2 separate regions of the Homo sapiens genome follow, and region 2 is linked to region 1. The links come from fine-mapping of genetic effects on gene expression. A gene starts in region 1. The other region holds a variant in brackets. All regions are shown on one strand. Distances are from middle to middle.

The links.
Region 2: its variant is fine-mapped to the expression of MAVS in whole blood (TOPMed, PIP above 0.99).

What each region holds. Positions count from the first base shown.
Region 1 is chr20:3,836,609-3,852,968 of GRCh38, reverse strand. It overlaps MAVS (mitochondrial antiviral signaling protein), which reads right to left and starts at 6,135. Exons shown (of 7, transcript NM_020746.5): 1 at 6,066-6,135. RefSeq lists enhancers at 1,624-2,125, 8,080-8,219, 9,208-9,352, silencers at 5,859-6,238, 6,669-6,718 and a cis regulatory region at 9,275-9,285.
Region 2 is chr20:3,866,546-3,881,873 of GRCh38, reverse strand. MAVS (mitochondrial antiviral signaling protein) reads right to left here. Exons shown (of 7, transcript NM_020746.5): 7 at 5,756-15,328. Among named protein-coding and RNA genes, the nearest start is that of PANK2-AS1, 15 kb to the left of the region's middle. The variant T/C (reference allele first, on the strand shown) is at 12,112.

The sequences.
Region 1 (16,360 bases):
TATTCAGGAAGCTGAGACAGAGAATTGCTTGAACCCAAGAGGCGGAGGTTGTAGTGAGCCGAGATCACGCCACTGCACTCCAGCCTGGGCGGCAGAGTGAGACTCCGTCTCAAAAAAAAAAAAAAAAAAAAAAATTCTGCAGAATTTGCTAAAAATGAATTGATGACCACCAGCTACTCAAGAAGCTAGGGCAGGAGGATCGCTTGAGCCCAGCTGTTCGAGGCCAGCCTGGGCAACACAGCGAGACCCTGTCTCTAAAAAAATAAAAATAAAAATAATTGAAGACCAAAAAGAATCAGATCCAGAATACCTAGGGCCCATTTCTTCTCTGCAGGTTGGTCAGCACTGGGAAGGTCTGCATGTACCCCTAGCACATGCGGTGGGGGGATCTGTATGTGACCCTAGTTTCTGTGCCTATAAATGTCCTGGCTCCCTTCCTGGCTCTAAGGCCCTCAAGCTGATAGCAAGAGGGCTATACCTAAACGTGCTGCTGCTTTGGGACACACTGAAAAAATAAAAAGTGAACCCCAACATGATAATAATCGGATCATCCCGCTTTAAAGAAGAAACTGAGGTATGCTTGCTAGTTAGTAGAAGAAGAAAGAACTGAGATCTTCAGGTCAGCTTCTTTCCATGACATGGCTGCAGGCCCACCATTAAAGCCTGCTACACATAGGCCGGGCACGGTGGCTCACGCCTGTAATCCCAGCACTTTGGGAGGCCGAGGCGGGTGGATCACGAGGTCAGGAGATCAAGACCATCCTGGCTAACACGGTGAAACCCCGTCTCTACTAAAAATACAAAAAATTAGCCCGGCGTACTGGCGGGTGCCTGTAGTCCCAGCTACTCGGGAGGCTGAGGCAGGAGAATGGCGTGAACCTGGGAGGCGGAGCTTGCAGTGAGCCAAGATTGCGCCACTGCACTCCAGCCTGGGCGACAGAGCCAGATTCCGTCTCGGGGGAAAAAAAAAAAAAAAAAGCCTGCTACACATACATTCTTTTTTTCTTTTTTGAGACAGAGTTCCAGACTCTTGTTGCCCAGGCTGGAGTACAATGGCACAATCTCGGCTCATCGCAACCTCTGCCTTCCGGGTTCAAGTGATTCTTCTGCCTCAGCCTCCTGAGTAGCTGGAATTACAGACATGCACCACCACACCTGGTTAATTTTGTATTTTTAGTAGAGACAGGGTTTCTCCATGTTGGTCAGGCTGGTCTTGAACTCCTGACCTCAGATGATCTGCCTGCCTTGGCCTCCCAAAGCGCTGGGATTACAGGCGTGAGCCACCATGCCCGGCCCACATACATTCTTAAGATAGGAGACTGAGTTCCATGCCTTGAACTCACTGTGTGTCCTGGGCAAGTTATCAGTTTCCAGACTTCCTCACCCTTAAAACGGCTCAGATAGCAGCTTGTTTTGACAGTACGGTAATTCAGCCTTATAAACTTTTTTTTTTTTTTTTTTTTTTGAGACAGAGTCTCCCTGTCGCCCAGGCTGGAGTGCAGTGGTGTGATCTCGGCTCACTGCAGCCTCCATCTCCCACATTCAAGCAATTCTCCTGCCTCAGCCTCCCGAGTAGCTGGGATTACACGTGCCCACCATCATGCCTGGCTAATTTGTTTGTTTGTTGTTGTTGTTGTTTTTGAGAAAGAGTCTCGCTCTGTTGCCCAGGCTGGAGTGCAGTGGCGTAATCTCGGTTCACTGCAACCTCTGCTTCTCGGGTTTAAGCAATTCTCCTACCTCAGCCTCCCGAGTAGCTGGGATTACGGGTACACGCCACCATGCCTGGATAATTTTTATATTTTTAGTAGAGACGGGGTTTTATATGTTTTAATGTTGGCCAGGCCGGTCCTGAACTCCTGACCCCAGGTGATCTGCCTGCCTTGGTCTCCCAAGTTGCTAGGATTACAGGCGCCAGCCAACGCGCCTGGCCAATTTTTGTATTTTTTAGTAGAGACAGGGTTTCACCATGTTGGCCAGGCTGGTCTCGAACTCTTGACCTCAAGTGATCCTCTTGCCTTGGCCTGCACAGTGCTGAGCCACTGTGGCCGGCCTCTAAGCTTAAATTTTTTTTTTTTTTTTTTTTGAGACGGAGTTTCGCTCTGTCACCAAAGCTGGAGTGCTGTGGTGCAATCTCGGCTCACTGCAAGCTCCACCTCCTGGGTTCACACCATTCTCCTGCCTCAGCCTCCCGAGTAGCTGGGACCACAGGCGCCCGCCACCACACCCGGCTAATTTTTTGTATTTTTAGTAGAGATAGGGTTTCACCGTGTTAGCCAGGATGGTCTCAATCTCCTGAACTCGTGATCCGCCTGCCTCGGCCTCCCAAAGTGCTGGGATTACAGGCGTGAGCCACTGCGCCTGGCCTTTTTTTTTTTTTTTGAAATGGAGTTCACTCTTTTTGCCCAGGCTGGAGTACAATGGCGCGATCTCGGCTCACTGCAACCTCTGCCTCCTGGGTTCAAGCGATTCTCCTGCCTCAGCCTCCCAAGTAGCTGGGATTACAGGCATGAGCCACCACGCCCCGCTAATTTTGTATTTTTAGTAGAGACAGGGTTTCACCATGTTCCGGTCTCGAACTCCCGACCTCAGGTGATCCGCTCACCTCGGCCTCCCAAAGTGCTGAGATTTACAGGCGTGAGCCACCGCGCCCAGCAGCTTAAAAAAATTTCTTTTTTTTTTTTTTTTTTTTTTTTTGAGACAGTCTCGCTCCTTCACCCAGGCTGGAGTGCAGTGGTGCAATCTCGGCTCACTGCAAGCTCCGCCTCCCGGGTTCACACCATTCTCCTGCCTCAGCCTCCCAAGTAGCTGGGACTACAGGCGCCTGCTACCACGCTCGGCTAATTTTTTGTATTTTTAGTAGAGACAGGTTTCACCGTGTTAGCCAGGATGGTCTCGATCTCCTGACCTCGTGATCTGCCCGCCTCGGCCTCCCAAAGTGCTGGGATTACAGGCATGAGCCACCGCGCCCAGCCAGCTTAAAAATTTTTAAGTGCCTCAAATATAAGCAATTGCTGCCAGTTGTTTATGTAGGAGTTACCACAATTTGCAGTTATAGATGTATTTGCTCGTTACTTTTCTGCCGCCCCCATCAGGGAGTGCTGCAGGGAATAAAAGAGACAAGGTCTATGCCACATCCAATTTATATTCTAATGGGGTGGGACAAATAACAGATCAGTAAATTAATACCCAAATAAGAGTTCCAGATAGCAATAAAGGCTCTAAAGAAAGTAAAGCAGGTAATGAGACAGAGCCCCTGGAGACAGGCATGCTACTTGAACTAGGGGGTCAAAGAAGCCTTTCTGAACTAGCGTGCAGAACACAGCTGAGCTGTTCTCAGGCTCTGAGAAGATTGGTGTTTTAGGCAGAGAGCATGGTAAATGCAAAAGTCCTAAAACAAGAATGAGCTTGGCATGTTTGAAGAATAGAAAGCAGGTCAGTGTGGTCTAGGTCAAGAAAGCTAGGGATGGCTGGCTGCGTGACTCACGCCTATAATCCCAGCACTTTGGGAGGCCTAGGCGGGTGGATCACCTGAGCTCAGGAGGTTGAGACCAGCCTCGCCAACATGGTGAAACCCTTTCTCTACTAAAAATACAAAAATTAGCATGGTGGTGGGCGCCTGTAATCCCAGCTACTCGGGAGGCTGAGGCAGGAGAATCGCTTGAACCCAGGAGGCAGAGGTTGCAGTGAGCTGAAATCATCCCATTGCACTCCAGCCTGGGTGACAAGATCAAAACTCCATCATAGGAAAAAAAAAAAAAAAAGCAAGCAAGCTAGGGAAAGGGGCAGAGATTGTCAAGGTCAAGGAGGTGGCAGGGGCCACTCATGTAGAGTGCTGTAGGAAAGGACTCTGGGTTTTAGTTGGAGTGAAACAGGGAACCACTGGAAGGTTCCGGCAGGGAAAGAAGAGGATCTGATTTACATTAAAGACTTCTCTGGTGGTTGTGAGGACTTTGGAGGGGCCAGGATGAAAACTGGGAGACCAGTAAGGAGGCCACAGCCCAGGAGACAGGATGACTATGGTCAGGATGGGAACCACAGAGATGGCAGGAGGCAGCCAGATTCCTGGTGTTTTGAGGGTGTAGGAGATAAGGGAGAGAAAAGAAGCATGACTCCTTGGGCACTGGGTGGATGGAAGGTGCCCTTTTACCAGGCCAGAGAAGCCAGGGGAGGAGCAGTGGCTCAGAAGGGACTCCAGAACTCAGTTCGGAACAAGTGAAGTTTGAGATGCTATTGGATTCCAAGTGGGTTGTCAGGGAGGGAAGGAGGCAGGAGAGGACCAAGTGGGCATCAGGCAGGCATGAGACCTCTCTCAGGAGGCAGTGCTGTAGAGCAGACAGCACCTAAAAGCTGTTGGGCCACCAGACCTTCCTCACAGGGGAAGCAGTCCTGTCACTGGCCTCAGAGCCTCACATGCATGAGTTGCTTTGCCAGCCAGCAGGCCCTGCTACATTCCTCGTGGGGCAAGTACTAATGACAGGTCAGGAGAATCAGGAAGGTGAGGCGGGGGTCCTCTGAGCCTTCAAGAAATTAGCAAAGAACAACTCTATGGGAGTTAATAGATCCCTTTCTCGGCCGGGCGCGGTGGCTCACGCCTGGAATCCCAGCACTTTGGGAGGCCGAGGCAGGCAGATCACTTGAGGTCAGGAGTTTGAGACCAGCCTGGCCAACATGGTGAAACCCCGTCTCTACTAAAAATGCAAAAATTAGCCAGGCATGGTGGCACACACCTGTAGTCCCAGCTACTCAGGAGGCTGAGGCAGGAGAATCTCTAGACCCAGGAGGCAGAGGTTGCAGTGAGCCAAGATTGGACCACTGCGCTCCAGCCTGGGCAAGAGAGTGAGACTCCATTTCAAAAAAAAAAAGACCCCTTTCTCCTTCCTTTCTCATGGCATCAGCCAGGTACCAGAAGGCAGTCAGATGAGGCACTCTTCTGCATTCCAGCTTCAGCCACAGATGGAGGGGAAGGGATGATGTGGCCCAAACAAAAGGAAAGGAAGCCCACATTTGTTCACATTTATGGAGGGCCCATTGTAGACAGGCACATCCTAAGGTTCTTTCAGTTAATCCTTCCCCAATCCCGTGACAGGGAAAGTGTTGCCAAGGTGCACAGCTGGCCAGAGGCTAGCACAGGATTTGAACCCAAAACCTGCTGCCTCACTGCAACTGGTCATACACCTTGCAGGGCACAGAGACCCCTGCAGCGAGACCCACACAGCCACCTGCCTTCAAGCCCAAAGAGGACCCAAGGTCACTTGGCGGGAGGGAGGCTGAGGGTGCACTTAGGTGGAAGCAACATTTAGTCCAGACATTAACCCTGCTTTCACATGGCTGCCACAGGTCCCAGGTCGCTGGCTGTCCTCCTAGATATTTTTGAGGCTTCACGGCTTCCATACAGAGAATCCCTTTTTCGTGTTTTTGGTTTGTTTCATGTTTTCTTGGCACTTCCTTCCCAACTGAGAAGGAAGTAGGTGACAGAGTGTTCCCAATACAGCAAAGTTTCCGACCTGACTGTCCAGAGGCTCTGAGTGCATCCCGGAAATAAACACCCACCCTTCCCAAAGGGACAGGCCTCACAGCCTTGGATCGGATTCCTGGGCGCGACCCAGGTCCGCGGAGGGCGGGGAGGCCGTTTTGAGCTGGTGTCGCCGCCGAGAACTGTCCAGACCCAGCGGAGGGCGGCAGCACTCGACCTCTAGGCGCACCCGGTCGAGGCTCGGCCCCACCTTAGCGTCACCCTGGGCCCGCGGGCGGCAGGAGGAGGTCAGCGGCCGCTGCCCGTCCCCTTCTGGCCCTACCTTTCCCCCAGCCTGAGCAGACGCCCAGCGCCACCTACCCCCTTTTCCCCGGATGCTGGATGCGGCGCCTGGAGCCCTCAGTGTTCCCGAAACTCTTGCGACAGGGCCCGCTCTTCCGGATCCCCGCGCGTCCTGTCCCCTCCTGGGCCCCCCGCGCACCCCAGACCCAGGGCGTCCCGGCGGACTCCGTCCTGCCGCTGCAGCCACCTTCCCTAAAGGCGTCCGTGCGTGCTGAGCCGAAAGGACCCAACGCCCGGGAAGCGATCTTACCTCGGGTACCCCCGGCCCTGAGACCTGGCGACCGCCGCCCGGGGCCCAGGACCCTTCCCGCAGCGAGGAGGCGGGGCGGGCAGAGCGCGCGGCCATTGGCCATGTGGAGGGGCGGGGCTACTCGGCCGCGCGTGGTTGGCTGGCGACGCAGGCGGCTGCGCAGCGGGGACGGTCACTGGGCCTTGGTTTGCGGGTCGGGAAGCGCTAGACTGGGCTCGGAGAACCGACCTGATTTTTTGCTGGGGGCGCGCAGTCTCGAGCAACTTCCAGGGGAAGTCCGGTGTCCGGCCAGAAACCAGGCAGGTGGCCGGCCTCGGAGTCATCGGGGGGCTGAGAATTCCATCCCCACGCTTCCCAAGTGAAGCAGCCCCTCCTCCCCCTGGGAACTTTGAGGGGTGAGGGTCTTCGTGTCGTTCTCTCCGGCACCCCCATGGCCTGGCATACAGTTAGTGCCCAATAAACGTTGGGTGCCGCTGAAGTCACAGGGGCAAGGATGCCTATCCTGGAGACGTGCACGCTGGGCCTGTGGGAGTGGGAGCGGGCGGGGGACTGCTGGGTAGGTAGGCGCAAGGCAGGGACGCCAAGGTTGGCTGGCGGGCAGGCTGGGTATGGGTTGGGTGCTGCGTGGGAGAGGCCTCTTACGCCCAAGGGCCTGGGACAGGTACCTCCCGCAGTTCCTGCCATCTGCCTCGCCCTTCCCCTTCTGGGGCAGAGGCCAGCACTTACTGAGCACCTACGATCTTCCAGGCACAGGGTCTTCTATTCTTTTTTTTTTTTTTTTTTTTTGAGACAGAGTCATGCTCTGTCGCCCAGGCTGGAGTACAATGGCGCGATCTCGGCTCACTGCAACCTCCACCTCCTGGGTTCAAGCAATTCTCCTGCCTCAGCCTCCCAAGTAGCTGAGATTACAGGCACATGCCACTGCGCCCGGCTAATTTTTGTATTTTTAGTAGAGACGGAGTTTCACCATGTTGGCCAGGCTGGTCTCAAACTCCTGACCTCAGGTGATCCTCCCACCTCGGCCTCCCAAAGTGCTGGGATTACAGGCGTGAGCCACTACGCCCAGCCTCAAGTGAGGTTTTATTACTGTACTTTATATCCCTGTGAATATTTCACAACCTTCAGCATTTACAAAGTATGCTTAATCACACCTGAACTGTAATAAAACCAGCTCTGCCTAGTTTAGCCAAGAGGGCATAAATGTTGATTAGTTCAAGAATCAATCCTGCCTGCTCCCCACCGGAGCAGCTCTAGCAGCTTCATATCTAATTCTTTCAGGAAGAACATTGAAAGTGTAGGAGCGGGCTTCCAAGTGCAGCTATCACTCCTGTCTTTGCTGGACCTCAAAGAGCATTCAAACAATCCCACTGCCTGACTAGGTGGTTCCCTGCCACCTATCAACAGCTTTTATAAAGATTTAGACAAAGAAGAACACAACAACATGCTTATGGTATTCCTATCAAAAGCTCATGATCTGAAACTAATCATAGGGAAACAGTAAGCAAACCCAAAACGAGAGACATTTGACAGCTGTCCTATCCAATACAATGGCTACTAGCCACATGTAGCTATTTTAATTAAAATTAAATAATACTTAGAAGCCAGTTCCTGAGACCCACGAGCCACATTTCTCTTTTTTTTTTTTTTTTTTTTTTTTGAAACAGAATCTCACTCTTTCACCCAGGCTGGAGTGCAGTGGCCCAATCTCGGCTCACTGCAACCTCCGCCTCCCGGGTTCAAGTGATTCTCCTGCCTCAGCCTCACGAGTAGCTGGGACTACAGGCGCATGTCACCACGCCCGGCCAATTTTTGTATTTTTAGTAGAGACGAGGTTTCACCATATGGGCCAGGCAGGTCTCAAACTCCTGACCTCAAGTGATCCACCCACCTTGGCCTCCCAAAGTGCTGGGATTACAGGCGTGAGCCACTGCACCTGGCCCATGAGCCACATTTCAAATGCTATTTTCATGTAGCTAATGGCTTCATACTCGGTGACACAGAGCATTTCTATTTTTTTTGTTTGTTTTGTTTTGAGACAGAGTTTCACTCTTGTTGTTGAGGTTGGAGTACAATGGCGTGATCTCGGCTCACCACAACCTCTGCCTCCCAGGTTCAAGCGATTCTCCTGCCTCAGCCTCCCGAGTAGCTGGGATTATAGGCATGCACCACCATGCCCAGCTAATTTTGCATTTTTAGTAGACACGGGGTTTCTCCACCTTGGCCAGGTTGGTCTCAAACTCCCGACCTCAGGTGATCTGCCTGCCTCAGCCTCCCAAAGTTCTGGGATTACAGGTGTGAGCCACAGCGTCAGGCCCAAACAGAGCATTTCTATCATCACTGAAAGTTCTATTGGATAGCACTGCTCTGCAGAATAACTCTTCAAAAATTTCAAGGTCAGGAAAAACAAGGAGACTGAGAGACTGCTCCAGAGAAAAGGACACCAAAGTGACATGACAACTGAATGCAATATGGGAACCTGGGTTGGATCCTGAAACAGAAAAAGGACTTCAGGTGAAATCCAAATAAGGCTTTTGGATCAGTTAACAATAATCTAGCTGGGCATGGTGGCTCACGCCTCTAATTCCAGCACTTTGGGACGCCGAGGTGGGTGGATCACCTGAGGTCAGGAGTTTGAAACCAGCCTGGACAACATGGTGAAACCCTGTCTCTACTAAAAATACAAAAATCAGCCAGGCATGGTGGTGGGCACCTGCAATCCCAGCTACTCAGGAGGCTGAGGTAGGAGAATCGCTTGAACCCGGGAGGCAGAGGCGGCAGTGAGCCGAGATCGCACCATTGCACTCCAGCTTGGGCAACAACAGTGAAACTCTGTCTCAAATTAACAACAACAACAACAATCTGTCAGTGTTAGGATCATTGTACTGGGTTATGTAAGATGTAAACATTTGCATTATTTTTGCAACTATGTTGTAAATCTGAAATTATTTCAAAAATATAAAGTAAAATAAATCATCTTTTGACCCTATCTGGCTATTTATATTATCTTTTATTTCTTATTGCATCCCACCCTATTTCATGGGTGTAATTCATTGATCACTGTCCATTTATTAGGAGAAGAGCAAGTCCAGAGAGTGATCTATGCTCTAGGCTGCCCCCAGTGAGGGCCTTGGAGCTGCCCCCTGCCCAGTAAAGTTCAGCACAGACAGGCCCATCTCCAGGCCTCCGAGGGAGGCTGTGACCCACCCATGATGACTCAGCACCCACCAGCTCACGTCACCCCCTGGAGAGCAGAGGTCAGGCGCAAAGACAGTGCCAGAGGGCTCCAAACTCGGTTATGTTCTCCGGTCTGAGCCCTTGAGGGAACTATGACTAAAAAACATAATCCCCTCCTTTATGACTTCATTTTGAATAGTATTTTAAACAGTTATTCTTTATGTTTTATTTATTTATTTTTAAAATAAAACAGACACAGTCTTGCTACATTGCTCTGGTTGGTCTTGAACTCCTGGGCTCAAGCAATCCTTCCATCTAAGCCTCCGAAGTAGCTAGGACCACAGGCACACTCCACTGCACTTAAACAGATATTCTTTATACTATTTTAATTTTTTCATTCTTTCAACTTAATTTACCAAAAATATATACTGTTTACAGCTAATGTGGGGAAAACAGAAATATTTGATGATGAAAACCAAAATCCATATTCATAATGCCACCATCTACAAAAATTAGCCAGTCATGGTGGCACACATCTGTAATCCCAGCTACTCAGGAGACTAAGGCAGGAGAATTGCCTGAACCCAGGAAACGGAGGTTACAGTGAGCCAAGATCATGCCACTGCACTCCAGCCTGGGCGACAGAGTGACTCCATCTCAAAAAAAATACTACTAATAATAATAATGCCACCATCCAGGGGTGACTGCTGGTGACGCTCCAGTGTCTTTTCTAGTATTTTTTTTTTTTCCTACAATACAGAGTCTCCAAGTCCTCTGACTTCCTGGGGTTATCCTTGCCTTGACCAGCCATGTAAGATGGTTCTGGTTCTAGCCATGATGTGGGACGTAATAGGGTCTGGCATGAGCCTGCCTTACCTCTCAGGGGTCTCAGGAGGAGGGGGCTTGGCTCACTTCAGCTCCTGGGTCAGTCGCTGCTACAGCCAGCTCCTCCTCTGGGACTGTGGTTGGCATAGCCCTTTCATCAGGCCTCAGGACACTGTGTGGCTCGTCACCTGCCGCTGACACAATACAGTGTGCTTAATCACATCTGAACTGTAATAAAACCAACTCTGCCTAGTTTAGCCAAGAGGGCATAAATGTTGATTAGTTCAAGAATCAATCCAGCCCTGCCTGGGCTCTTGCGGCTTCATATCTAATTGTTTCAGGAAGAACAATTGAAAGTGTGGGAGCCATAAGATTAGGCACACTTAATTGTATTGCTGCTTGGCAAGGACATGCCTTGAGAGTTAGATATCAGAGTTCCTAAAATTCACAGGCCTCCCCCAACACAGGGGACTTCTCCCTGGTCACGTCCCTCCACGCTCCCAGCTTCTGGTGCCCTGCTTGCTCTCAGCCCCTCTTGCTGTCTCTTGTCCTAGGGCTCCTCTCCCAAAATCAGATATTCAGTGCAGGAAACAGATGTCACCCTAGGTGTTTTGTGCATGGAAGGGTTTTGTTTCTTGAAGCACAGTTTACATTCAGTGAAATATATCAAACTTAAGTGTATGACTTGACTCTTTTTTTTTTTTTTTTTTTTGAGACGGAGTCTCACTCTGTCACCAGGCTGGAGTACAGTGGCATGATCTTGGCTCACTGCAACCTCCAACTCCCTGGTTCAAGCGATTCTCCTGCCCCAGCCTCCTGAGTAGCTGGGATTACAGGCATGCTCCACCACACCCAGCTAATTTTTGTATTTTTAGTAGAGACGGGGTTTCACCATGTTGGCCAGGATGGTCTCGATCTCCTGACCTTGTGATCCACCTGCCTTGGCCTCACAAAGTGCTGGGATTACAGGCGTGAGCCACCGCACCCGGCTCTCCCTTTTTTTTTTTTTTTTTTTTTTTTTGAGATGGAGTCTTGCTCTGTCGCCAGGCTGGAGTGCAGTGGCGTGATCTCAGCTCACTGCAACCTCTGCCTCCTGGGTTCAAAGGATTCTCCTACCACAGCGTCTCGAGTAGCTGGGATTACAGGCACCCACCACCATGCCCGGCTAATTTTTGTGGGTTTTTTTTTTTTTTTTTTTTAGTAGAGACAGGGTTTCACCATGTTAGCCAGGCTGGTCTCAAACTCCTGACCTCAGGTGATCCACCCGCCTCCACCCCCAAAGTGCTGGGATTACAGGCGTGAGGACTTGATTCATTTTTATCCAAGTAAATGGGTGTGACACCAGCATCCAGATCAACATCTAGAATATTTCCATTTCCCCAAAAGTTCCCAAGGCCTGGCATGATGCTCACACCTGTAATCCCAGCATTTTGGCAGATTGAAGCAGGAGAATTGCTTGAGCCCAGGAATCAGAGACCACCCTGGGCAACATGGCAAAACCCTATCTCTATGAAAAGTACAAAAAATTAGCCAGGCATGGTGGCACGCTCCTCTAGTCTCGGCTACCTGGGAGGCTGAGGCGGGAGGATCAATTGAGCCCAGGAGGTCGAGGTGGAGGTTGCAGTGAGCCATGATCGCATCACTGCATCTGAAGCTTCACTTGTTCAGAACTCAGTTCTGGAGTTCCTTCTGAGCTACTGATCCTCCCGCCTCAGCCTCACAAGTAGCTAGGACGACAAGCACATACCACTGGCCTTTTTTTTTTTTTTTTTGAGGCGGCGTCTCGCTCTGTCACCCAGGCTGGAGTGCAGTGGCGCTATCTTGGCTCACTGCATGCTCTGCCTCCCAGGTTTATGCCATTCTCCTGCCTCAGCCTCCCGAGTAGCTGGGACTACAGGCACCTGCCACTATGCCCGGCTAATTTTTTGTATTTTTAGTAGAGATGGGTTTCACCGTGTTAGCCAGGATGGTCTCGATCTCCTGACCTCGTGATCCGCCCGCCTCGGCCTCCCAAAGTACTGGGATTACAGGCATGAGCCACCGCGCCCGGCCACCACTGGCTCTTTTTAAATTTATTTTTTGTAGAGACAGGGTCTTGCTATGTTACACAGGCTGGTCCCAAACTCCTGGGCTCCAGCAGTCCTCCCACTTTGGATTCCCAAAGTGCTGAAACTACAGTTTTGAAGCACATTAGACCTCTTACTGCTTTGACTGCTTTTTTTTTTTTGAGACTCTTTTAGCCCAGGCTGAAGTGCAATGGCACGATCTCATCTAACTGCAACCTCCACCTCCAACCTCCACTTCCTGGGTTCAAGCAATTTTCCTGCCTCAGGCTCTGAGTAGCTGGGATTACAGGTGTGCACCACCACATCCGGCCAATTTTGTATTTTTAGGAGAGACAGGGTTTCACCATGTTGGCCAGGCTGGTCTGAAACTCCTGACCTCAGGCTATCCTCCTGCCTTAGCCTCCCAAAGTGCTGGGATTACAGGCGTGAGTCACCATGCCCGGCCTCTGACTGCTTTTTAACTCACCTTCCCTCAGGGCAGGAACCAGAGCCTATGGTAATACTCAATCATATTTATTTGTTTTTGTTTTTGGCGAGAGTGCAGCGACTGGAGTGCAGTGGGACGACTGTGGCTCACTGCAACCTCCGCCTCCTGGGTTCAAGTAATTCTTGTGTTTCAGCCTCCCAATTAGCTGGGATTACAGGTGTGCGCCACTACACCCAGCTAATTTTTTATTTTTAGTAGAAACGGGGTTTCACCATGTTGGCCAGGCTGGTCTCGAACTCCTGACCTCAGGTGATCTGCCTGCCTTAGCCTCCGAAAGTGTTGGGATTACAGGCGTGAGCCACGGTGCCCAGCCCCTCAATCATATTTGTAAACTCTTCCAGAACACTGAGGGGAAAGATAAATTTCTATTCATTAAAAGCAGTGTAGAAAGTCAGAGTAACTTTTTCTTTTTTTTCTTTTCTCTCTTTCTCTTTCTCCTTCCTTCCTTCTTTTTTTTTTTTTTTTTTTCGAGACAGGGTCTCACTCTGGTTGCCCAGGCTGGAGTGCAGTGGCGTGATCTTGGCTTACTACAGCCTTGACCCCCTGGGCTCAGGTGATTCTTCCACCTCAGCCTCCCAAGTAGCTGGGACTACAGGCTCATGCCACCACACCCAGCTAATTTTTTGTATAGATGGGGTTTCTCCATGTTGCCCAGGCTGGTCTCAAACTCCTGGACTCAAGCAATCCACCTGCCTCAGCCTCCCCAGAGTGCTGGGATTACAGGCGTGAGCCACCATGCCTGGCCCAGCCAGGGTAACTTCTGAACATAGGGTGACTTGCAGCAGGAAACTTGCAGGCCCTACACAGCTGCTTCCTTTCTGTAACTTGTGGCTTATCTCCTCGGAAATTGCAAGCAGTCCTGGGAGTAGCATCCTTGAGAGATTAAGAGATATCTTCTATTGTTTCTCTCTGCTTCTCAGCACAAAGAAAAAGTTACATGGTGATGTTGCAGAGTCCCTGGCCCCAGGGGTTTCCTATAAGCCACCTATTCATTCATTCCTTCATTCATTCCTTAGTTCGTTCAGTATATATTGGGTGCCTGTTATGTGCTAGCCGTTGGGTATAATGTAGAAAACAAAAGAGACACAACTCGTGGAGGTTATAACAAGATGGAAAAAAGAAATGGTAAACTAAATAACACAAAAGAAAGACTATGTAGCGGGGGAACGTTGTTGAAAAAGTTGGTAAAGCTCTATGTGCCTCTTAAGGAAAATGCATAATTCATCTCCAGAAGGATATGTCTTTCTGTGGCCCCCTTCAGAACAGACAGACATCAGTGGGGAAGGAGGTCTTGCCCACGAGTTTCATCGTGTTCCTTGAGTCTGTAATTTCAAAGCGGAGTTGAAAACATGCTTTGAGATGCTAACGGTGGAGCTTCAGGTCTGCATTTTTCTTTCTCTTTTTTTAGTGGGCACAGCTATGATATCAAAAGGTAGGCCTGGAACCAAGCTGATGGGAGAGGGAAGACCTGAACTGGTCAGTATAAGAAGGAAATGAGAAATGAACAGGAATGAAATGGGGCGCGAGTGGTCAGAGAGCAAAGAAGGAAGTGTGGGCAGTGAGTGCCTGATGGCTGCGGAGTTTCTGTTTCAAACGATAAAAAAAAATTTTAGAAATGGACACAACATTGGCCGGGCACGGTGGCTCACACCTGTAATCCCAGCACTTTGGGAGGCTGAGGCGGGTGGATCACCTGAGGTCAGGGGTTCGAGACCAGCCTGGCTAATATGGTGAAACTCCATCTCCACTAAAAATAAAAAAATTAGCCAGGCGTGATGGCAGGCGCCTATAATCCCAGCTACTCGGGAGACTGAGGCAGGAGAATCACTTGAACCCAGGAGGTGGAGGTTGCAGTGAGCCAAGATTGCGCCATTGCACTCCAGCCCGCGTGACAAGAGCGAGACTTTGTCTCAAAAATAAAAAATAAAATAAAAATAATGGACATAACATTGTGAATGTGCTTAATGCCACCAGATTCTACACTTAAAAATGGTTAAATGGTCTTTTTAATGTTAGGTATATTTTACAATAAAAAAGAAAAAAACAACAATTTTCTTTTTTTTTAGGATCGAGTCTTGCTCTTGTCGCCCAGGCTGGAGTGCGGTGGCGCAATTTCGGCTCACTGCAACCTCCGCATCCTGAGTTCAAGCAATTCTCCTGCCTCAGCCTCCCTAGTAGCTGGGATTACAGGCATGCACCACCACGCCTGGCTAATTTTTGTATTTTTAGTAGAGACAGTGTTTCACCATGTTGGCCAGGCTGGTCTCCAACTCCTGACCTCAGGTGATCCACCCGCCTCAGCCTCCCAAAATGCTGGGATTACAGGCGTGAGCCATTGTGCCTGGCCAAAAAAAACCCCACAATTTTTTAATTAAAAAAAATGAAAAGGAATGTAGCCCCAGCTACACAGGAGGATGAGGCCGGAGGATTGCTTGAGCTGAAGAGTTCCAGCCTGGGCAAAAGAGAGAGATCCCATCTCTCCAAAAAAAGAAAAGAAAAGAAAAAAGCTCTTTTTGGCTGGGTGCAGAGACTCACCCCTGTAATCCCAGCACTTTGGGAGGCCGAGGCAGGCAGATTACTTGAGCTTAGAAGTTTGAGACCAGCCTGGGCAACATGGCAAAACCCTGTCTCTACCAAAAGTACAAAAAGAAAATTAGCTAGGGCCAGGCATGGTGGCTCACACCTGTAATCCCAGCACTTTGGGAGGCCAAGGTGGGCGGATAACCTGAGGTCGGGAGTTCGAGACCAGCCTGACCAACATGGAGAAACCCCATCTCTACTAAAAATACAAAATTAGTCAGGCAATGCCTGTAATTCCAGCTACTCAGGAGGCTGAGGCAGAAGAATCGCTTGAACCCGAGAGGCGGAGATTGCGGTGAGCCGAGATAGCGCCATTGCACTCCAGCCTGGGCAACAAAAGCGAAACTCCGTCTCACAAAAAAAAAAAAGAAAAAAGAAAGAAAAAGAAAAGAAAATTAGCCAGGCTTGGTGGCACATGCCGGTGGTCCCAGCTACTCGGAAGCCTGAGGGGCCGAGGTGGGAAAATTGCCTGAGCCTGGGAGGCAGAGGTTGCAGTGAGGCGAGATCATGCCATTGCACCCCAGCCTGGGCAACAGAGTGAGACCTCATCTCAAAAAAAGAAAAAAAAAAAGCTTTTAAAAATACAATTTTATTAAGATAGGATCTCGCTTTGTTGCCCAGGCTGCTCTCAAACTCCTGGCTTCAAGCGATCCTTTTGCCTCGGCCTCTCAAAGTGCTGGGATTATAGGCATGTGCCACTGTACCCAGCCTGAAAACAGTTTAAAAATAAGGAGTAGCGTGAAAGCTGATGAGAAGCTGAGGCCCCAGGAGGAGACTAGGAGTGGGGAAACCCCACTGGGTGGAATGGGCAAGAGACTCAGGGGAAAGGTAGCATGTAACAATCAATTGTAAGTTTTTTTGCTCTGTCATTCTGTAAGATGACTCTCCTCTATCCCCCTAAATTCTTCTAACAGTTGGCTATACCCAAATGTCTGTTTCTTTAGGGACATCGAGGAAAAGATCTTCGTTTAGACAGACAGCAGGGCAGGGAGAAGAGCCGTATGTCCTGACCCCAAGTGAGACTGACAATGCCATAGAAGCAGAAAGCTAATGTACATAATGCCTAGGAGACATACGTCCCCTTGAGAAGCCCAGAAATGCTGGAGTACTAGGCATCCCATTGCAGGTAGGATGAGGACTCAGGAACTTCCATTTGCACACTA
Region 2 (15,328 bases), 29 kb before region 1:
TTTTTTGAGACAGGGTCTGGCTCAGTCACCCAAGGTGGAGTGCAGTGACGCAATCATGGCTCACTACAACCTCCACCTCCCCGGCTCAAGCAGTCCTCCCACCTCAGCCACTCAAGTAGCTGGGACTGCAGGTCCACACCACTATACCTGGCTAATTTTGTATTTTTTGAAGAGGCAGGGTTTTACAACGTTGCCCAAGCTGGTCTGAAACTCCTGAGCTCAAGTGATCCGCCCCCCTCAGCCTCCTAAAGTGCTGGGATTATGGTGTGAGCCACCTTGCCCAGCCTTATGTCACTCTCAGTGGCATTTCTCGTACTTCCTGGTCCTAAGATTCTTGGTGTACACGTTGTATAATCCCAACTAGATATGAGAGCTATCAGATTAAGACTTTGCATCTTTACATCCCCCAGTACCTTTCAGAGTGTGAGTGCACACACACCATTTGCTAAGGAATGATTGCAGTGACAATACCAAGTTTAGGATCCCTTAAAATACCTATATCTTGGGCAGAGGTTGCATTGAGCTGAGATCATGCCGCTACACTCAGCCTGGGTGACAGAGCGAGACTCCATCTTCAAAAAAAAAAACAGTCCGGGTGTGGTGGCTCACGTCTGTAATCCCAGCACATTGGTAGGCCAAGGTGGGTGGATCACAAGGTCAGGAGTTCAAGACCAGCCTGGCCAACTTGGTGAAACCCTGTCTCTACTAAAAATACGAAAAAAAATTAGCCGGGCATGGCGGCGGGGCACCTGTAATCCCAGCTACTCAGGAGGCTGAGGCAGAGAATTGCTTGAACCTGGGAGACGGAGGTTGCAGTGAGCCGAGATCACGCTACTGCACTCCAGCCTGGGCGATAGAGCGAGATTCTGTCTCAAAAAAAAAACTACATCTTCATAGTGGACATATTTGACATCTACCCAACTTACAACCATTCCTCCTATAGATCATAGATTAGGCCCCAACAGCCATGTTTGTACCTCCTAAACCCCACCACCTTGGAATAGAGACTTACTTCTCAAAGTGTGATGCCACATTCCTCGTGGGGTCAAAGAAGCAGAAAAAATTGGTTTGCGGCCGGGCGCAGTGGCTCACGCCTGTAATCCCAGCACTTTGGGAAGCCGAGGCAGACAGATCACCTGAGGTCAGGAGTTCGAAACCAGCCTGGCCAACATGGCAAAACCCCATCTCTACTAAAAATACAAAAATTAGCTGGGTATGGTGGAGGGAGCTACTCGGGAGGCTGAGGCAGGAGAATTGCCTGAACCCAGGAGGCCAAGGTTGAAATGAGCCGAGATCGCACCGCTGCACTCCAGCCTGGGTGACAGTGCAAAACTGCATCTCAAAAAAAAAAAAAAGTAGGTTTGCACAGAGCTCCAAGAGTGAACAGATGAACAGAACAGAAAAAGCACTTTGCCAGCTCTCCCAGTCCTGCCTGTTTCTATCCATTCCCTAGGCTGAATACATTCCTGTCTGTGTTCCATATGTCTCCCCCCGCAACATTAAAATAAGTTTATTAAGTCTCCCGCCCCATATTTTAATCTAGCTTACATTGTCTTCTGTTACTTGGAACCAAGAGTCTTTTTTTTTTTTTTTGAGACGGAGTCTTGCTCTTTCACCCAAACTGGAGTGCAGTGGCACAATCTCGGCTCAATACAAGCTCCGCCTCCTGGGTTCATGCCATTCTCCTGCCTCAGCCTCCTGAGTAGCTGGGACTACAGGCACCCGCCACCATGCCCAGCTAATTTTTGTTTGTTTGTTTGTTTTTAGTAGAGACAGGGTTTCACCGTGTTAGCCAGGATGGTCTCGATCTCCTGACCTTGTGATCCACCCGCCTCGGCCTCCCAAAGTGCTGAGATTACAGGCGTGAGCCACCGTGCCCAGCTGGAACCAAGAGTCTTAATTAAACAATCATGATGGAGACCAAGCCCACATTTTTCAGGTCACCTAATCCTGGCCTCTCCATGATCCAGTAACCTGAGTTACAGCTTTCCTACCATAAGGACTTAGAGCTAATTTCTTAAAGCCTGTAGTGGAGGCTGAGGCGAGAGGATTGATTGACACAAGGAGTTTGAGTCCAGCCTAGGCAACATACCAAGACCCAGTCTCTTAAGTAAATTTTTTAAAAAATCAATTTAGTTTCCAAATGAGATCAACATATTAACATATTATATTTGATTGCTTTGCCTTTTTTTTTTTTTTTTGAGGTGGAGTTTCACTCTTGTTGCTCAGGCCGAAGTACAATGGCACAATCTCAGCTCACCACAACTTCCGCCTCCCAGGTTCAAGCGATTCTTCTGCCTCAGCCTCCTGAGTAGCTGAGATTACAGGCATGCACCACCACACCTGGCTAATTTTGTATTTTTATTACAGATGGGTTTCTCCATGTTGGCCAGGCTGATCTCGAACTCCCGACCTCAGGTGATCCGCCTGCCTCAGCCTCCCAAAGTGCTGGGATTACAGGCATGAGCCACCGCACCTGGCCCAGGTTTGATTTCTTTAAAAGAATTCTTCACAGGTGCTATTTACCTTTTTAAACATTATTTTTCTATTTTTGTTTTGTTTTTGAGACGGGGTCTCACCCTGTCACCCAAGCAAGAGTGCAGTGGTGCAGTCACAGCTTACTGCAGCCTCAAACCCCTGGGTTCAAGCAATTCTCCCACTTCAGCCTCCCAAGTACCTGGAGGTACAGGTGTGCACCACCACGCCCAGCTAATTTTTTTTTTTTTTTTTTTTTTAGAGACAAGGGTCTCACTATGTTGCCCAGGCTGGTCTCAAACTCCTGGCCTCAAGCGATCCTCCCACCTTGGCCTCCCAAAGTGGTTCCCACTTATAAGTGAAAACATTACAGGTGTGAGCCACCATGTCTCACTATTTACTTTTTATTCATCTCATCAAGAGAAGAGAAATTCATAACATTAACTACTTACGTTAGGGGCTACAGCCCCTACCGTAATTTTCTAATCAGGTAGTTTCTTCTATGCTTGGTTAACTGGAATTTGTGTGTGTGTGTGTGTGTGTGTGTGTGTGTGTGTGTGTGACAGAGTCTCACTCTGTCACCCAGGCTGGAGTGCAGTGACACGACCTCAGCTCACCGCAACTTCCTCCTCCCAGGTTCAAGCGATTCTCCTGCCCCGGCTTCCCGAGTAGCTGGGATTACGGCTGTGCACCACGACACCCAGCTACTTTTCTTTTGTATTTTTAGTAGAGATGGGGTTTCAACATGTTGGCCAGTCTAGTCTCGAAATCCTGACCTCAAGTGATCCACCTGCCTGGCCTCCCAAAGTGCTGGGATTATAGGTGTGAGCCACCGCACCCAGCCTAACTGGAATATTTCTATAAAGAATCTTCCCTCATCAACTCTTTGTTATCCTGAAGTACCTCAACCTCAGCCTCCAGAGGAGCTGGAACTACTCAAATAGAAAAGGCAGGATCAATTCTTTCCCTTTACTGACCAGTTTTCAGAATGAGTTGGTTTCCTGGGGCATCCTCTAGAGGTCAACAATGAATTCTTTTTAGTATTATCATGAACTGGTGGCTTTTTTTTTTTTTTTTTGAGACGGTCTCACTCTGTTGCCCAGGCTGGAGTGCAGTGGTGCGATCTCGGCTCACTGCAACCTCCGCCTTCTGGGTTCAAGCGATTCTCCTGCCTCAGCCTCCTGAGTAACTGGGACTACAGGCAAGTGCCACCACGCCCAGCTAATTTTTTCTATTTTAGCAGAGAGGAGGTTTCACCATGTTGCCCAGGGTGGTCTCGAACTCCTGAGCTCATAGAATCCACCCACTTTGGCTTCTCAAAGTGCTGGGATTACAGGCGTGCGCCACCATGCCTGGTGTTTTTTTTTTTTTTTTTTTTTTTTTTGAGACGGAGTCTCACACTGTTGCCGGGGCTGGTGTGCACTGGCGTGATCTCGGCTCGCCACAACCTCCACCTCCCGGGTTCAAGCGATTCTCCTTCCTCAGCCCCCTGAGTAGCTGGGACTACAGGCGCGTGCCACCACGTCTAGCTTATTTTTGTTTTGTTTTGTTTTGTTTTTTTGAGGCAGAGTCTCTGTCGCCCAGGCTGGAGTGCAGTGACGCTATGTCGGCTCACTGCAAGCTCCGCCTCCCAGGTTCACGCCATTCTCCTGCCTCAGCCTCCCGAGTAGCTGGGACTACAGGCTACCTGCCACTATGCCTGGCTAATTTTTTTTTTTTTTTTTTTTTTTTTTTTAGTAGAGTCGGGGTTTCACCGTGTTAGCCAGGATGGTCTCAATCTCCTGACCTGGTGATCCGCCCACCTCAGCCTCCTAAAGTGCTGGGATTACAGGCATGAGCCACCGCACCCGGACTGTATTTTTTTTTTTAGTAGAGACGGGGTTTCACTATGTTGGCCAGGCTGGTCTCAAACTCCTGACCTCGTGATCCACCTGCCTTGGCCTCCCAAAGCACTGGGATTACAGGCGTGAGCCACCGCGCCTGGCCAACTCATGGATTTTAAAAGCCTATTTGATGAGTTTCAGTCCACTGGAGTCAGGTCTTTTTTTTTTTTTTTTTGGAAGTGCTGTGATCGTGACTCACTGCAACCTCTGCCTCCCAGGTTCAAGCGATTCTCCTGCCTCAGCCTCCCGAGTAGCTGGGACTACAGGCGCGTACCACCATGGCCAGCTAATTTTTTTGTATTTTTAGTAGAGACGGGGTTTCCCCATGTTGGCCAGGATGGTGTCGATCTCCTGACATAATCCACCTGCCCCGGCCTCCCAAAGTGCTGGGATTACAGGCATGAGCCACCACCCAGCCCAAAGATTCTATATTATATATACAGTTTTCCACTTTTTTTTTCCTCTTAGCAAAACATCATGGAGTTCACTCCATAGCAGTATAGAGATACTCATTTCTATTCACAGCTGCATAGCACTCCAATGTAGATATACCTTGGTTTATTGCCAATGTTCTGTAGATGGACATTGTCTGAGTTATTTCCAGTCTTTTGCTATTTACACAGTGGGCTATAATGACTAGCCTTGGACATATATCTTTATTTTTGCCAATGTTATCTTTGGCTTAGACTACTAGAAATGGAATTGCTGGGTCAAAAAACACATGCATATGTCATTTTGTAGGACAGAATCAAATTCCCCTCCTGAAGAGGCAGCTGCTATAATGGTGCTTCCAGTGGTTCCTACTTCTGGGTAAATTGCCCCTTGACTGCAATTTACAGAAGTGATGGGAGTGGATGCAGAGGCTCCTGCCTGTAATCCTAGCACTTTGGGAGGCTGAGCCAGGAGGATCACTTGAGCCCAGCAGTCTGAGACTAACATAGGCAACACAGTGAGACCGCATCTCTACTAAAAATCATGAAAGTTAGCCAGGCATGGTAGCGTGTGCCTCTGGTCCCAGCAACTCAGGAGGCTGAGGTGGGAGGATTGCTTGAGCCCAGGAGTTTGAGGCTGCAGTGAGACATTCTACTCCACTCTACTCCAACCTGGGCGATAGAGCATGCCCTTGTCTTAAAAAAAAAAAAAAAAAAAAAAAACTGCTGGGATGTCACTTTCAAGATTAAGTACCAAAGGACTGTGACTTCTGTTTTGCTCTCATACATTCTCTGTCTGAGAGCTGGGAGCTTGTCTTTAAGTAGAAACCCACCCATCCCCAGGGAGAAGGCAGGAGGGAAAAGGAGGAGAGGTCACAGACAAGCCCCCTGACTCTGTTGATCTTCACTGCAGTAGCTTCTCATTACAAGCAGGCATCTGGCCATTGTAGACCATTATAACTGTAGTTCTAGAAGTAATAATAGCAGATTTATTGTACAGAAGTGTCCACGGGCTCACAATTCTAAGGACATCATCATGACAGCAAGTAGGAAAAAAAATTAAAGTAATTCTTTCACCAATTACCAGTTTATCTCTTCTCCAATTCCTTTGGATACGCCTCCTGCAAGAAGCCGATTTCCAGCTGTATGTGATAATGAAAGGGTTTTTCTTTCTTATGTTAAATACAAGCGAAGTGATTAACTGGAAGATAGCGTCTGATTGCGAGGAAATCAGTGATTCAGATGGTGTGGGAATGGCACCTGGGGATGGGGGAGGCAGGACGGAGATGGAGGAAGCTGGTGCAGCCTAGCCTGCCTTGTGCCAAGGACACCCAAGGGCAGAGGGACTGAGCTCTGGGGGAGGACAGATTTGACATAACTGGTCCAGCCTCACAGTTTACAGGTCCTGGAGGGTGAGGAAAGTGGGAGCTGGCTGCGGATGCAGGACAAGAACCCAGGGCTTCCCTTCATTTTGCCTGCCCTGCCACTTCCTCCCGCCACTTCCACCCTTCCTACCCCTCCACCTCCCTTGTGCCTTTCACTGCCTTTTACAGCATTTACATTACACTTCAGTAAAAAGTTGTGGTTTTGGCTGGTTTTTTTTTTTTTTAAATAAAAACAGCACTGAAGAAGTAGAAGGAAGATATTCAGGGTTTTTATTTTTATTTTTTGAGTCTGGGTCTCGCTCTGTCACCCAGGCTGGAGTACAGTGGTGAGATCATAGCTTACTGTAGCCTCGACCTCCCGGGCTCAAAGATCCTCACACCTCAGCCTTCCAAGTAGTTGGGACTACAGGCATATATCATCATGCCTGGCTAAATTAACTATTTTATTTTAAGAGATGTGGTCTAGCTATGTTACCCAGGCTGGTCTCGAACTCCTGGCTTCTAGCAATCCTCCCACCTCAGTCTCCTGAATCACTGGGATTACAGGCTGGGGCCATCATGCCCAGCTCTAGGTTTTTAAAATGTAGGCAAGGAGGTCAGCATTTACACAAAAGCAGGGTTTGATCTTAGGAAGCTTAATAAAGAGAGGGGTCTAATCAAGGTTTCCTGTAGGATCTGGGCTTTAAGTTAGGCCTTAAAGAACGAAGAATGTTTGTGGGTGTAGTAAGCAATGACTTGGAGCAGAGCCCTCTAGCCATTGGGCTCACCCTCACAGGCAGGCGCCACTGACCCTAGGGGGGTGTAGGCAGCTGGAGGAAGTACTGTGTGTCCCCCATTCCAGCGATGGTGGCCCCTCTCAGAGTCAATACCCTTCCTTCCAAGAGACTGAACATACAACTGGACAATGGCCAGGCCACATATGACAATAGACTCTGGCCAGAAACCCATGACCAGCCTGGGAAGCCAAGGAAGCCAAACCACAGCCTCAGCAGCAATCGGACCCAGAACAGTCTGAACTTAGTGGCTGCCAGCTTCTTCCCAATCCCCAGCCACCACACCCCCTCTTCCAACTCCAGACCAACCAGAGAAAGCCAAATATACCCCCCCAACCAACCAAAGATGCCCCTCCAGTTAGTCCGCTCTGTCCCCATGCCAACAATCTCCAATCACAGCACACCCAGAGCCTTCCCTTTTTTTCCACTATAACATTTCACAGTCCCTGCCTGCCTTTGACCCCTGCCAAATACAAGCAATCATGGCTGACTCCTTTGCAAACTTTGACCAAATGGCCTCTCTGCTCTTGTTTAGGTGGTTTTTATTTCCACATCTCCAACAGGGAGTCTGGAAACAAACTGACAATACTCGTGAAATCAACACCCAGATGAGGTAGACCAGCACTCCAGGATGCCCCTCCCCAGTATCCCTCCCCTGTTAACTGTTCCCCTGGCTTCTAACACCATGGATCAGTTTTGCTTATTTCTGTACTTTTTGTAGGAAGAGAATCATACAATGAATTCTCTCTTGATGATGAGGACTCTGACCTCTTTTGCTTGACCTCATGTCTGTGAAATTTATCCATGTTGCTGTGCATAGCGATATTTTCATTCATATTCGTTGCTGTGCAGTAGTATTCGACCCTGTGACTTCACTGTAGCTTCAACTGTGGATGGACATTTGGGTTGGTGGATGGACATTTGGGTTGTTTCAGGTTTGGGGCTACAGTCAGCGTGTGGTTAGAAACATTCTTGCCAATGTCTCGGTGGACATAGCTTTCTGTGGTGTACATACCCAGGAGTGGAACTGCTGGATCAGTTTATACGTATGTTCGGCTTTTGGTAGATACTGCCAGTTTTCCAACAGGGTCACACCAGCTTGGTCCATTCAGGTTACAATGAAACACCTTAGCCTGGGTAATTTGTAAACAACAAAAAATTATTTCTCACAGTTCTAGAGGCTGGGAAGTCCAAGATCAAGGTGCCAGCAGATCCAGTGTCCAGGGCGGGCTCTCTGCTTCAGAGATACGGTGCCTTCTCACTGCATCCACACATGGTAGAAGGGACAGAAGGGCTCCCTCAAGCCTGTTTTATAAGGTGCTAACCCCATTCATGATCTCCACCCTCATGACCTAACCACCTCCCACAGGCCCCACATCTTTATTATTTTTTTGAGATGGAGTCTCGCTCTGTCACCCAGGCTGGAGTGCAGTGGCACGATCTCGGCTCACTGAAATCTCCACCTACTGGGTTCAAGCTATTCTCCTGTCTCAGCCTCCCGAGTGGCTGAAATTACAGATGTACGCCATCACACCTGGCTAATTTTTGTATTTTTAGTACAGATGGGGTTTCACCATGTTGGCCAGGCTGATCTCAGACTCCTGGCTTCAAGTGATCTGCCCCCTGCCAGCATCCCAAAGTGCTGGGATTACAGTCATGAGCCACCATACCCAGCCCCAAAGGCCCCACCTCTTAATGCCATTGCTTTGGGGGTTAGGATTCAACATATGAATTCAAAGGGTACACCTACATTCACAACACAGCACTGACTTAGATTCCCTGCAAAACCCATGAGAGTTTCATTTCCTCCATATTTTCATCAGCATTTCATCTTGTCAGATTTACTCTCTATAGGTTCTAAGTATTATTCCCCCTCTGCTGATTTACTTATTATAAACAGTACATAACTGATCAGATAAACACTTGTCCCTTTGCCACCCCTAATGCCTGCCCCCACTTCATATTCCAGGAACACTCCATTAAACCACCCCCTACTGTACTGGTGGGTGGTGGGAGGGGGCTCATCGGGTGGGGTCTTTGCCGTATTATTCTGTGTCACTGAGGCCTATCACAGTGCTCTGCACATGTAGGTGCAAATATCTGTTGTATGATTACATAAAAGAATGATGTGAAAGCCTATTTGTCTGTACCACAATCATGAACGTCCCCAACCACTTGAAGGCACTCATAGTGTCTTAATCATCTTAGGCCTTCGATCTGGCATAGGTAACTCCTTTAATAAACAATGTCTGCTAAACCAAATGGCTTCCTGAGGCCTGGCATTTTAGGCTGTGTCCCCTGCCCCACCTCGCCCAGCCTGGGGCATTGAGCCTGGCTGGGCACACACGTGATAGTTGTAATCATATTGTCATAACATCCCTGAGACTACATTAATTACATATTGAGTGTTATAGTACTATTATAGCAGGTGGCAGATGTTGGCACACTGGGCAGAGATGTGTTGGTGTGAAAAACCTCTATGTACTTTAAAGACAGGGTCTCCCTCTGTTGCCTAGGCTGAAGTGCAGTGGTGCCATCATAGCTCACTGTAACTTCAAACTCCTGTGCTCAAGTGATCCTCCCACCTCAGCCTCCTGAGTAGCTGGAACTTGAGGCACATACCACCACACCCAGCTAATTTTTAAATTTTTTGTAGAGATAGGGTCTAGCTGTTACCTACACTGGTTTTGAACTCCTGGCCTCAAGCAGTCCTTCTGCCTTGGTCTCCCAAAGTGCTGGGATTATAGGTATGATCCACCACCTCCAGCCAAAATCTCACTTTAAGTGGGGTCCCTAACTCCAGACATGTGATAAGCTGTGGTTCACAGGCATAAAGAACATCCAGCCTGGGGCCCCGGGGTCAGAGTTTTCCCTCGCATTGTCCCCTGGGTCCTTCATCCCTCCTAATCTTGCAAACCAGCTGTCAATTGGGTTGAGATGGTATCTCTTTCATAGGGTCATTATGAGGATTAAATGACTTAATATATGTAAAGCACTTAGCTTAATGCCTGGCAGACAGTAAGGTATGGAGTAAGTTGTAACCCTTATTATTATTGCTGTTGCTGTTAGCAACAGAGTGAGGAATGCTAGGAGTGACCATGCCCAGCACCGAATGAGGCCTTCATAGCCTTGGGCTAAAAGAAAAAGAGCAGAAAGGTGAACACAGGGGAAGGCCTCAATTTCAACACAGATGCATTAGACCAAGGACTCTGAACTCACTTTCCCTGGAGGTGGGGGTGCTATCAGCTGCTTAATGGAGCATCATGGAAAATGTGGGACTCAAGGCCTGAAGGACTCCATTCCTAAGAGATGGGAGCAGGAGACATGCTACGGAGTTTGAATCTTGCCTAGCACAGGGATTTCTGCCTGCTGGAAGGGCTCTGTCAGGGCCTAGTGGAAGCCCCTGCCTCAGTGGGGCAAACTGCCACTGGACACACCCATCATTCATCATCACCTCTCTGGGACAGTAGTAGCAGCCAGGCACCTCCAAAGAGCTTGACAACAGAGGAACCCGCTTCGGCCCCTCCTCTGAAGACAGGATCCTGCGCTACTCCAACTCTGAACTGGTTCAAGGTGAGAGACGTCATCCACAGAGGCCACAAAACCAAGAGGTGGATGCCTCATTGTTACTTCATGCTGTCTGGGAGCAAAGAGAGGGCCTTAGGCACAAAATCCTCCAGACCCGCATCTGCCCCTTGGCTTTCTCAACCCTTCACTCTCCAACTTCTATAAATAACCTGTACAGTGGCCAGGCACCGTGGTTCACACCTGTAATCCCAGCATTTTGGGAGGCCAAGGCGGGCGGATCACTTGAGGTCAGGAGTTCGAGACCAGCCTGGCCAACATGGTGAAACCCCATCTCTAACAAAAATACGAAAATTAGCCAGGTGTGGTGGCGGGCATCTGTAATCCCAGCTACTTGAGAGGCTGAAGCAGGAGAATCACTTGAACCTGGGAGGCGGAGGTTGCAGTGAGCCGAAGTTGCACCACTGCACTCCAGCCTGGGCAACAGAGCAACACTCTGTCTCAAAAGAAAAGAACCTCTGCAGAATGAGGGGAAGCAGGGAAGCAGGCAGGGGTGAACAAGATGGCCATGAATTGATAATTACTGAAGTTGGGTGATGGGCTCATGGGGATTTGTTATTCTACTCTCTCTACTTTTTTGTGTTTGAAAGTTCATAATAAATAATGTTGCTCAAAGGAAGCTATTAATAGTTTGAGGCCAGGCAGGGTAAAGAGCATCTCCTAGATTTTTTTTTTTTTTTTTTTTTTTTTTTTTTTTTTTTTTTTTTAGAGATAGGGTCTTGCTTTGTTGCCCAGGCTTGTCTCAAACTCCTGGCTTCAAGGGATCCTCCCACCTCGGCTTCCCAAAATGCTGGGATTACAGGCACAAGCCACCACATCCAACCTCCCTCATATTTGACTAAGAAGTCTCATAAATCTGAGAACACCTAGCAAGGAATTAAGGCGAGGGTGTGGCACTGTTCTGGCTTCAGTCTATCACCAGGCAGAGTCCACGCATTCTTCCCAGGGAGAAAGAAGCAGTGACAGCTCTTGGGCTTTGAGGGAAATGATTCAGCGGGAGAAAGAAGGTGGAGAGGGGCTAATATGCAGATACCATTGCTGCAGGTGGCTCTGCCCCTAAGCACTGAGGAGGGCACTGGTCCCTCTGGCCCCACCCAGCCTTCACCCCAAGGTGAAGTACGCTTTCTCAGGTCCCCAAGGATGGGTGGCCAGGTCCCCCACTGGGAGTGGAGGTCTCACTCCCTTCCTTGGGTTCTGACCTCCACATTATCTGGCTGTGAGGGTGACCTGCCTGGCTTTCCCCACCAAGTGCAGCTCCCCGCAGCTGAAAGCCACACTCTCAACACAGGACTCCTGAGATCTGACACTGGCCAATTCACACCCTGCTTGAAGCTGGCATTTGAGAGGCCTTCAGGTTGACAACAGCAGCAACAAGTTTGCTGTTCAAAGTAGGCCAAGTCACGGCTTTGAGCGGCATCATTTGAAAAGTGCTGGGATCAGCCAGGCGCAGTGGCTCACTCCTGTATCCCAGCACTTTGGGAAGCCAACGCAGGTGGAGCACTTGAGGTCAGGAGTTCAAGAACAGCCTGGCCAACATGGAGAAACCCCGTCTCTACTAAAAATACGAAAATTAGTCGGG[T/C]GTGGTGGCAGGCCTCTGTAATCCCAGCTACTCGGGAGGCTGAGGCAGGAGAATTGCTTGAACCCGGGAGGCGGAGGTTGCAGTGAGCTGAGATCATGCCACTACACTCCAGCCTGGGCAACGGAGTAAGACTGTCTCAAAAAAAGAAAAAGGAAAAAAAAAAGTGGTGGGGTTTGGGTGCAGTGTCTCACATCTGTAATCCCAGCACTTTGGGAGGCTAAGGCAAGATCTCATGAGGCCAACCTGGGCAACATAACAGCATGACCTCATCTCTATAAAAAATTTAATTTGGCTGGGCGCGGTGGCTCACGCCTGTAATCCCAGCACTTTGGGAGGCCGAGGCGGGCGGATCACAAGGTCAGGAGATCGAGACCATCCTGGCTAACACAGTGAAACCCCGTCTCTACTAAAAGTGCAAAAAAATTAGCCAGGCGTGGTGGCAGGCGCCTGTAGTCCCAGCTACTCTGGAGGCTGAGGCGGGAGAATGGCCTGAACCCAGGAGGTGGAGGTCGCAGTGAGCTGAGATCGCGCCACTGCACTCCAGCCTGGGTGACAGAGCAAGACTCCATCTCAAAAAAAAAAAAGAAAAAAAAATTTAATTAGCCAGGCATGGTGACAGGTACCTGAAGTCCTAGTTACTCAGAAGGCTGAGGCAGGAGGATCGCTTAAGCCCGGGAGTTTAAGGATACAGTGAGTTATGATTGCACCACTTCGCTCCAGGCTGGGTGATTCTCTAAAAAAAAGAAAAAAGAAAAAGATGGGAGGATGGGAGGCGGGGCTAGGGGACTGGGAAGGTCCCTCAACCCTTTCTACATGCCTTACCCAGGGTATCTCCCATCATGGCTGGTTACTGTGCTAAAATTATAATTTTTTTTCTTTGAGACAGAGTATCACTCGGTCACCCAGGCTGGAGTGCAGTGGTGCGATCTCAGCTCACTACAACCTCCGCCTCCTGGCGGGCTCAAGTGACTTATCTTCCCACCTCAGCCTCCCATGTAGCTGGGACTATAGATGGGCGCCGCCATGCCCAGTTACTTTTTGTATTTTTTACCTAGGCTGGTAGTGTGCTAACATTCTACCACTTGGGCAACAGTCTTCGGGGCTACATACTGCCTTTTTTTTTTTTTTTGAAACAGAATACCACTCTGTCGCCCAGGCTGGAGCGCAGTGGCACAATCTCGGCTCACTGCAACCTCCGCATCCTGGGTTCATGGAATTCTCGTGCCTCAGCCTCCTGAATAGCTGGGATTACAGACGTCTGCCACTACACCTGGCTAATTTTCTTATTTTTGTAGAGACGGGGTTTCACCCTGTTGGCCAGGCTGGTCTTGAACTCCAGACCTCAGGCGATCTGCCCACCTTGGCCTCCCAAAGTGCTGGGATTACAGGCGTGAGCCACTGCGCTCGGCCCATGTTGCCTTTTTGAGATACTTTTTTCAAAGCTACCCTGGAACGGTAATACAATAAAACTAGTACCTGTGCATAAATTGTTAACTGACCTGCCCAGCATGGGTACCTAACTGGGGTTTAGGGTAGGGGGACAGAGGGCTTTTTAAGATTGGTGGTGGGGGATGGGGATTAATACAGACAGCTCGGGTAGGGTCCACTCCTGGTTCCAGGGTGCAGGTTGCTGGACTTGGAGCATGGGATGAAGAGATGTTCAGAGATAGAGATCATTAGGTTGCTGAACTCCCCTAGGGCAGTGGAGTGAAAAAGCTGTAGCAGCCAAGGCAGGGTGTAGATCCCTGGAGGCTGACGGCTTGGGGTGGGGCCACAGTGAGCCCAGCCCCTGATGGCTCTAGTTCTTGTCCCTTGCAGAGCTCAGAAATGGAGGTGGCTCCTGTGCCTTGTCCAGCAATGGTTCCCTGAAAAGAACCCATAAGGATACCCCCAATCCACCCCAATGTGTTTCTGGTGTTATTGTAGATAATCTCCCCAACAGTGGGTGAGCTTGGGGTGAGGGAACCTGGCTGCTGGGAGTGGAAACGCCCTATATCCTCCATCCTGTACAGCTGCCCAGTGGACATACCTCTCTCCCCAGCAATTTCTCAAGGCACAAGATAAAGTAAGGGGCAAATACAAAGATAAAGCTGTGAGGCAGGAGGGTCTGAGTCTGCCTCTAAAGGAGTAGCCAAGACTCCTGTTTCTCTGCATTTTTCTTTTTCTTGAGACAGGGTCTCGCTCTCTCACCCAGGTTGGAGTGCAGTGGCACGATCCTAGCTCACTGCAGCTTCAAGCTTCTGGGCTCAAGTGATCCTCCCACCTCAGCCTCCCAAGTAGCTAAGACGACAGGTGCACCACCACGCCTGGCTAATTTTTTAAACTTTTTTGTAGAGATGGGGTCCCTGTTGCCCAGCATGCCTGGACCCTCAACACTTAATAGTGATAATAACATATATCCAACCCTTGGTAAATGCCAGGACTCATCCTAAGACCTACATCGATAAACTCCTTTAATCTTCACAACACTGGGAAATATATATATATACTTATCCTCCTTTTACAGGTGAGAAAACTAAGGGACAGACAGATAAATCCCTTGCCCAAGGTCACAGAGCTGGTGAGAGGCAGGTTGGGACGCAGGCCTAGGCTGCCTGTGCTGCAGAGCTGCACCCTTGACCACTGTGCACTCTGCCTCTCATGCCCTCAGCTCTACCAGGTTGGGCAGGAGAGAGATGGGAGAAGCAGTGGCCACTTGCTCTGGGCCAGGCACTTGGCAAACACCTGTAGGTTCAATCTCAGAAGAACCCAGTGAAGAATGAGCCAGATACTCACTGTCCACGTGGAGAAGCAAGACCAGAAGTCTGACATCTGCCAAAGCCACACAGCCCCGGAAGTGAGGGAGCTGAAATCCAAACCTCTGCCTGAGCTCTGCCCACCAGGTGTCTCCTCCCCAGCCCATGTAGGGAGCTGAAGAGAATGGAGACCAGAGGGGAGGGAAAGAGGAGGCTGGAGAGGAGCTCCACAGGTCTTCCTCAGGCCTGACAGCTGCCCCTGGCTTCCCTGAGGTCCACAGGAACCTCCAGACCTTCCCAGGATTGCCCAGCAGGGGAGGGGGCCCAGTGGGGCAGGAACTCAAGGCAGTTGGGCTCCTGGAGAGCAGCCACCCTGCCGCTCCTGCCTGCCTCAATGCAACGGTCTCAGGCTGGGCTGCCAGGATGGGAGGCAGGTCTTGTGGAGTCGCCCACACACCACATACCTGCCCTGAGGCCTTCAG